3 separate regions of the Homo sapiens genome follow, and regions 1 and 3 are each linked to region 2. Evidence: fine-mapped expression QTL. A gene starts in region 2. Each other region holds a variant in brackets. All regions are shown on one strand. Distances are between the middles of the regions. Region 1 overlaps ADGRL1-AS1 (ADGRL1 antisense RNA 1). Region 2 holds the start of PRKACA (protein kinase cAMP-activated catalytic subunit alpha). Region 3 overlaps ADGRL1 (adhesion G protein-coupled receptor L1).

What was found. PIP is the estimated chance that this variant, and not a neighbour inherited with it, causes the effect.
Region 1: its variant is the best candidate, but not a certain one, in a credible set for the expression of PRKACA in whole blood (TOPMed, PIP 0.55).
Region 3: its variant is the best candidate, but not a certain one, in a credible set for the expression of PRKACA in whole blood (TOPMed, PIP 0.54).

Annotation. Positions count from the first base shown.
Region 1 is chr19:14,141,929-14,144,745 of GRCh38, forward strand. The region is part of intron 1 of ADGRL1-AS1 (ADGRL1 antisense RNA 1); the gene reads left to right. Among named protein-coding and RNA genes, the nearest start is that of ADGRL1-AS1, 6.2 kb to the left of the region's middle. RefSeq lists a silencer at 1,049-1,343. The variant A/G (reference allele first, on the strand shown) is at 1,589.
Region 2 is chr19:14,116,741-14,119,240 of GRCh38, forward strand. PRKACA (protein kinase cAMP-activated catalytic subunit alpha) reads right to left here and starts at 1,022. Exons shown (of 10, transcript NM_002730.4): 1 at 762-1,022. The coding sequence starts at 807. LOC124904642 (a long non-coding RNA gene) reads left to right here and starts at 1,474. Exons shown (of 2, transcript XR_007067144.1): 1 at 1,474-2,451. RefSeq lists silencers at 603-672, 1,083-1,642.
Region 3 is chr19:14,175,581-14,178,080 of GRCh38, forward strand. ADGRL1 (adhesion G protein-coupled receptor L1) reads right to left here. Exons shown (of 23, transcript NM_014921.5): 3 at 1,951-2,164. Among named protein-coding and RNA genes, the nearest start is that of ADGRL1, 29 kb to the right of the region's middle. The variant G/A (reference allele first, on the strand shown) is at 1,023.

The DNA.
Region 1 (2,817 bases), 25 kb after region 2:
AAGTATAAGAAGTGCTATAGCAAAATACTGTTACCCAGCTTAACAGCTAAAACATTAGAGATGCAACTGAAGGGCCCTATACCCCTACATCAAACCCATTCCTCTTCCTTTTTCCTCACATGTAACCACAACCCTGAATTTGGTGTTTACAGTCTTCTGTGCATATCGGCGTGTATCTTTAAACAATATATAGTATTGTTTGTCATGTTCTATACTTTTATATAAATGGTGTCTGCGCAATTTAGAGTTAACCTAGCAGGCCTGAGACTGCTATCCTTAGAAAGACCTGTTTGCAAGATTGGCCCTTGGCTGATATCTAGGAACTTGGATTTCAGGAGGGTTCCTGCCGTTCCCCAAATGATGAGTGCCTAAACTGTTTCCACCAACAATGTGGTTCATGTTGAACACCTGCTCTCCTTCTGGAGTCTGGCATTTTGGTACACGACCACCCCCAAGTACAACTCTGGTCACTGAGTAATGAGCTTCCCTGGTAGACCGCCTATCCGTCGTGCTGTCATACTTGGCGGTAGGAATTGATGGAGTCCTGTGTGACTCCACTAGGAGAGGACTCTTAGAAGCTTGTCCTGGTTTCCTCTGGACTTCAGCTCCTGCATCTTTTCCCTTTGCTGATTGTGCCTTGTGTCTCTTCACTATCATAAATCACAGCCATGCCTACGCTTCCAAGCAAAATCCTGTGACTCCTCTTAGTGAGTCATTGAACCTCAGGGTGGTCTTGGGGACCTCTGATAGCAGGATCATACTGGGTGTATCCTGACAGAGCTGGCACTAAGGTGGCACTGGGTCCTGCCTTCTGAAACTTGCTTTTTTTAATCCAGTGTAATGCTTTTGAGATTTATCTATGTGGAAACGTGTATAGCTCTAATTCACTTATTTTCACTGCTATACAGCTGTGCTGATAAGGTAACCACTAGCCACATGTGGCTATTTAGATTAAAATTAGACGAAACAAATAATCTACTTCCCCAGACACACTAGTCACATTTCACATGTTCAGCAGGAGCCTGTGGCTAGTGGCCACCATGGTGTATAGAGAACATAGAGAGGAAACATTTCCATGAGAACAGAGAGTTTTGTTGGACAGTGTTTATCAATTCACTTGGTTGAAATTTAGGGTGTTTTCAGTTTTCTACCATTACAAACAGTGCTGCAGTATGCGTTGGTATCTATGTCTCCTTGAACACATGTAGGAGTTACTCTGGGAGATAAACCTAGGAGTTGAAGTGCTGGACGGGGGGTTGCGGAAGTATTCATCTTTTCAAGATACTGCTAATCTGCTCTTCGGAATCATGGTACTGGTTCTCACTCCCCTCGTTAGTGTTCCTGTTGCTCAGTGTCCTTATCTTTTATTTTTATTTTTATTTTTGAGACAGAGTTTCGCTCTTGTTGCCCAAGCTAGAGTTCAATGGCACGATCTCGGCCTCCCGGGTTCAAGCGCCGCCTCCCGGGTTCAAGCGATTCTCTTGTCTCAGCCTTCTGAGTAGCTGGGATTACAGGTGTGCACCACCACGCCTGGCTAATTTTTGTATTTTTAGTATAGATGGGGTTTCACCATGTTAGCCAGGCTGGT[A/G]TCGAACTCCTGACCTTAGGTGATCTGCCCGCCTCAGCTTCCCAAAGTGCTGGGATTACATGTATGAGCCACCGCACCCAGACATCTTTTAATTTTTATAATGTTTTGATGTTCAGCATTTTTAAAAATTATTATTATTATTATTATTATTTGAGACAAAGTCTTGCTTTGTCGCCCAGGGTGAAGTGCAATGGTGTGAACTTGGCTCACTGCAACCTCCGCCTCCCGGGTTCAAGCAATTCTCCTGCCTCAGCCTCCCGAATAGCTTTTTGGACCAGTCTCTCATGCCTGTAGTCCCAGCACTTTGGGAGGCCGAGGCGGGCGGGTCACCTGAGGTCAGGAGTTTGACACCAACCTGGCCAACATGGCTAAACCCTATCTCTTCTAAAAATACAAAAAGTTGCCGGGGTTGGCGGCGGGTGCCTGTAATTCCAGCTATTCAGGAGGCTGAGGCAGGAGAATCTCTTGAACCCGGGAGGCTGAGGTTGCAGTGAGCTGAGATTGCACCACTGCACTCCAGTCTGGGCAACAGAGTGAGACTCTGTCTCAAAAATAAACAAACAAAACATATATTCTGAGAATTAAATGAGACAAAATGTAGGAAAGAGCTTTGAAATGATACATTTCAGCATAAATGTACCGTCCCTAGGCACATGCAGATGAATGGGTGCCACTAACAACTACCTGAGGGTCAGAGGTTGTCAGGCACAGCAGGTTTATTTTTATTTTTGAGACAGAGTCTCACTCTGTCGCCAGGCTGGAGTGCAGTGGCGTGACCTCGGCTCACTGCAACCTCTGCCTCCCAGTCCCGAGTACCTGGGACTACAGGCGCCCACCACCACAACTGGCTAATTTTTTTTTCTTTTTTTTTTTTTAGTAGAGACGGGGTTTTGCCATGTTGGCCAGGCTGGTTTTGAATTCCTGACCTCAGGTGATCCGCCCGCCTTGGCCTCCAAAGTGTTGGGATTACAGGCGTGAGCCACCGCGTCCAGTCAGGCACAGTGGGTTTAGGTTGTGTGTAGTGAAGGGGAGAGTAAAAGACACAGAAGGACTGGTCATATTTGGCTCTCATTGTATGCGGGATTCGATTTCAAATCAGAGCATGAGGTCAAATCACATATAGTTAAAATTATCTACTCTTTTTTTTTTTTTTTTTTTTTTGAGACGTGGTGTTGCTCTGTCACCCAGGCTGGAGTGGAGTGTGATCTTGGTTCACTGCAACCTCTGCC
Region 2 (2,500 bases):
TGAAGCAATTCTCTACGTTCATAAACAGTCTGCTACCCCAGCCAGGGACAGACGCTTGCTTGGAGGACGGAGCACAAGCAGAGCAGCAGAATGACAGAGTGACAGGATGAGAGAGGCAGAGGGACCCAGAAAGATCCTGTCCCCCATGCCAAGTGACACAGAAGAAAAAAATAATGCTGGAGGTGGCTCTGGGAAATGTTCAGGGGGCAGGATGGGTTTGGAAGGGGGGGCTGTGCTAAGGTGAAGAGGGAAAGGGCAGGAGAAAGATGGCGGGGGCTGGAGGGGGGAGGGGTGTGGTCAGCAAGTGGCCAAGGTCCCTGCGCGGTGGAGGCAGACAGACCTCATCGCATTCCCAAACTGGTAGAAACCTGGGTCGGGGTCAGGCAGAGGATCCCATAGGTGAGAGAGGTGAGTGAGGAAGTGGGGGGATTAGAATCTGGGAAGAGGGGCCAGGAAAGGAGGGGGTAGGCTGGTGACAGGGGCCCATGTGGGGCCCCAGCGGTCATACGTGCCATGGTTGGCAGTGACAGCTGGGGGGGAGCACGGTCTTTGCAGCATGGGGCGGCCCTAGGGGAAGGGGACCCCTACAGGGGGTACTCTGCGGGCCCGCGGGCCCCAGCCTTGGACAGGCCGGGGCAAGGGGCGCTGGGGGGTAGGCAGAGAGGATGAGGGGCCCCGTAGGGGGAGGGGCCAGGCGATGATGGACAAGGCCAGGGCTGGCAGCGCAGGGCCAAGATCGGGGTCACAGCCCGGGCACTCACCGCTCTCCTGCTCGCTGCCCTTCTTGGCGGCGGCGGCGTTGCCCATCGCGGCGGCGGCGGCCGGGGCCGGTCCCGGAGCTGCGGCGCGGCGGGTGCTGGCTGCGGCCGGCGGCCCCGGAGCGCGCTGGGCGGCGGCGGCGGCGGCCCTCGGGCTGGCTGCGCTAGCTGCGGCGCCGCGACCCCCGCCCAGCCCCTGCTTCCCGCGTCTCTCCGCGCCCGCCCGCCCGGGAACCTCAGCCCAAGATCTCTGCCGCTGTCTGTGACGCCCCCGCAGCCCGCCGCTCATTGGCCTAGGCCGCCCTGACTGACGGCTCAGCGCCGCCTCCCATTGGCCCTCCCGCGACCTTCCCGCGCCACTATAGGCTCTCAGCCTCGGGACACGCACCGCGGACTCTCGGCCATTCACTCGCTCGCGAGGCCGCAGCTGGGCGGGCAGACGCGTCCGATTGGCCGAGACGCTGGACTGGGCCCGGGGTCCGCCCTGCGAGGCCGCCGATTGGCGGAGGTGCCGGGTCCGCCAAGCCCCCCAGCAGAACGCTCAGTGTCAATCCGGGGGTGAGAGGGCGGGGCGGAGACGCAGTCTGCGGGCCCGGGCCGGCGGGGCGGGGCGGCGGAGGCTGGCTGGCGGCCGCGCAGCGCTCCGAGGCTCAGGAGGCGGCCCCGGCGGGCGCCCGGCCGGCCCCGCGCGCGCCGCAGTCCCCCGCCCCCGCTCAGTGCGGCAGCGGCTGTCGGCCAGCCGGAGTTGGCGCCGCGGCCTGCCCGGCGCAGCCGCTGTCCACCTGCCAGCGGGGGAGGGGCGCGGCCGGCGCGCGGGTCAGAGGTCGCCCGGCCGCCGCCGGCGTCATTCATAAGGCCTGGCGCTGGGCGGCCGAGGCCAGGCCTGCTTGGGGGCCAGGCCGCGGGGCCTCCTGGGTTTTCCCAGCCGCACTCAGGAGGATGCCGGGCCCGGCGCAAGGGGTGGCTGGGAAGGGGCGCTCAGTGTCCACCCCTTTGCTGGGCCCTAGCCCTGGGCTCCTGCCAGTAGTAAGAGCTGGCACCCACTTAACGCTCCTTCGCACCACACTCCCATCGCGTAGGTGCTACCATCATCACTCCCATTGCACAGATGAGGAATCTGGGGTACAGCCAGGCAGATTCCCTGCTCCTGTTCCCCGTCTGTATTTCCTGTCTGGGCAATGCGAAGGGAACCTGCCCCTTCCTTCAGGATCCTCTTTCAGTACACACTTAGCAGAGGACAGTCGGGGTTTCCCAACTGCGACACTACTGACGGTGAGGCTGGATCATTTTCTGCTGGGGGGTGTCTTGTGCACCACTGGGTGTTGAGCAACATCCCCCGCCTCTACCCACTGGATGCCAGTAGCCCCTCCTCTATCTTCCTGCTGGCTGTGGCAACCGCTGTCTCCTGACATTGGTGAATGTGCTCTTGCGGGGCCGAACTGCTCCTGATTGAGAAGCACTTAAGAGAGGGTCAGGGGAGGGGAGAAGCCAGGTCACCCCGACTCGGAAGGGCTAGCTGGGCTTAACTACAAGCCGATCTGCTGCTTCGACTTGAATAGCCTCCACCTTCTCCAGCTGCTGTCTGCCCCCATGTTCCCAGATCAACCACAGTTCCAGGGAGGGAGAGTCAGAGCCTTTCTGTGAACTATGGGGAAATGGCTGACCACTCCGCCTCTGGATGGATAGATACATGGTAAGGTTTAGTAAAATTTAATAAAAGCATTGCTGTTTGTGTGTTGGGA
Region 3 (2,500 bases), 59 kb after region 2:
TACACACTCCAATACACACTCATACAGACACACTCAGACACACTCAAAGACATGTTTAGTCACACACATCTGCACACACCTACACCTGTTCACATACACTTAGACACACAGACACACTTAGTCACAATCACACACATTTAGTCACACACTCAAAAATGCACACATACTCACACTCAAATACACACACAGGCCAGGCGCAGTGGCTCACGCCTGTAATCCCAGCACTTAAGGGGGCCAAGGCAGGCAGGTGAATCACCTGAGGTCAGGAGTTCAAGACCAACCTGGCCAACATGGTAAAACCCTGTCTGTACAAAAATACAAAAATAAGCTGGGCATGATGGTGCGTACCTGTAATCCCAGCTACTCGGGAGGCTGAGGCGGGAGAATTGCTTGAACCCTGGAGGTGGAGGTTGCAATGAGCTGAGATCACACCACTGCACTGCAGCCTGGGCGACAGAGCAAGATTCTGTCTCAAAAATAAACAAAACAGGCCGGGCGCAGTGGCTTACACCTGTAGTCCCAGCACTTTGGGAGGCCAAGTGGGCGGATCATGAGGTCAAGAGATCGAGACCATCCTGGCCAAGATGGTGACACCCCGTCTCTATTAAAAATACAAAAAAATTAGCTTGGCGTGGTGGTGCGCGCCTGTAGTCCTAGCTACTCGGGAGGCTGAGGCAGGAGAATCGCTTGAACCCAGGAAGCGGAGGTGGCAGTGAGCCAAGATCGCACCACTGCACTCCAGCCTGGGTGACAGACTGAGACTCTGTCTCAAAAATTAAATAACTAAATAAAATAAAACAAATACACCGTCATACTCATAGATGCATGCAATCACACAGACACACTCCAAGTTACAGTCTTGCATGCTCAAGCATTCACCCCACACACAATCACTCACACAGGCCTGTGCTTCTATCATCTGTGCTCAGGTGTCTCCTCCTTGGAGTAGCCTGATGAGCTCTCAAATCTGGGATGGGTGGGTGCGGTGGCTCATGCCTGTCATCCCAGCGCTTTGAGAGGCC[G/A]AGGCAGGAGGATTGCTTGAGGCCAGGAGTTTAAGACCAGCCTGGGCAACATAGCAAGACCCTGCCTCTACAAAAAATAAAATAAAATTAGCCAGGCATGGTGGCAGGCGCCTGTAGTCCCAGCTACTCAGGAGGCTGAGGCAGGGGGATTGCTTGAACCTGAGAGGTCACAGCTGCAGTGAGCTGTGATTGTGCCACTGTGCTCCAGCCTAGGCAACAGTGAGACCCTATCTTCAAAAAAAAAAAAAGAGTCTGGGATGAAGGGAAAAGTCCTCCCATGACACCTTCGCTCTGTCCTGCTGTTCTTTATATTTTACAAGCTCCAAACTGCCCTGGCTAAGGCTGGGTGTGATGGCTCATCTCATGCCTGTAATGCCAGCACTTTGGGAGGTCGAGGTGGGCAGATCACCTGAGGTCAGGAGTTCGAGACCTGCCTGGCCAATTACAAAACCCTGTCTCTACTAAAAATACAAAAAAATTAGTCAGGCGTGGTGGCGTGCGCCTATAATCCCCAGCTACTTGGGAGGCTGAGGCAGAAGAATCGCCTAAACCCAGGAGGTGGAGGTTGCAGTGAGCTGAGATGCCACCACGCTCCAGCCTGGTAACAGAGTAAGACTCCATCTCAAAAACAAACAAACAAACTGCCCTGGCTAATCTTGGGATGGAAGTTATGGAAGCAAGAGGCTGGTGGGGGGAGGGACTTCCCAGTGTATGTATGGGTATAGGCCTCTGTCGGGGGCACAGGCTGGCTGTGGGGAGATGTACTGGGTCTTATTCTCGTCTGCATGGGGCCCAGCACCTATTAAGTGCTCAGTAAACATGTGTTGAATGCATAAAAAAAAGATGTAAGGTGAACGGGTGTGCTGGCAGGTGTGCAGTGCTTTTAGGCGGGCACTTCATCCAGGAACTGCCACGAGAGCCCACTCACCTCTGTGACATGATCTTGAAGGCGTCCGGCAGGTAGCACTGCACATTCTCCATCTGGAAAGGGTCAGCATCGCAAATCTTGTCGTCCGTGCGCCCGTAGTTGGCATTCTCCACCATGATGACGTCGCTGCCGGGGCACCGCAGCTCGATGGGGTAGCCTTCACACGCCAGCTCCCGGCGCATCAGCCCGAACGGGAGCCCGGCCCGGCTCAGGCCTGCAGGGAGGGTTGGGGATGGTGTCACTCCTGGGCCTGGGCCAGGAAGGGAAGACCCTACCCACTGCCAAGAAAACACCACCTCTGGCTCGGCTGTGTCCTGGAAGCCAGCTGAGGCAGCCTCAGTTGATTCAGCTGTAGAATGGGCCTCTCAGTGTGCCCACTTGTGTAGTGAGGACATTAACCTGGCCCAGAGAGTGCCTGGACTCTCAGCTCCTAGGAAGTGACGTCTGAGCCTTTGGAATGCTCTGCTTGATAAGAGTGACTGTTTTCCTGGGGTCCTCGGGCTACACCAGATATGCTGTTATGGATTGAACTGTGTTCCCCTGAAAATTC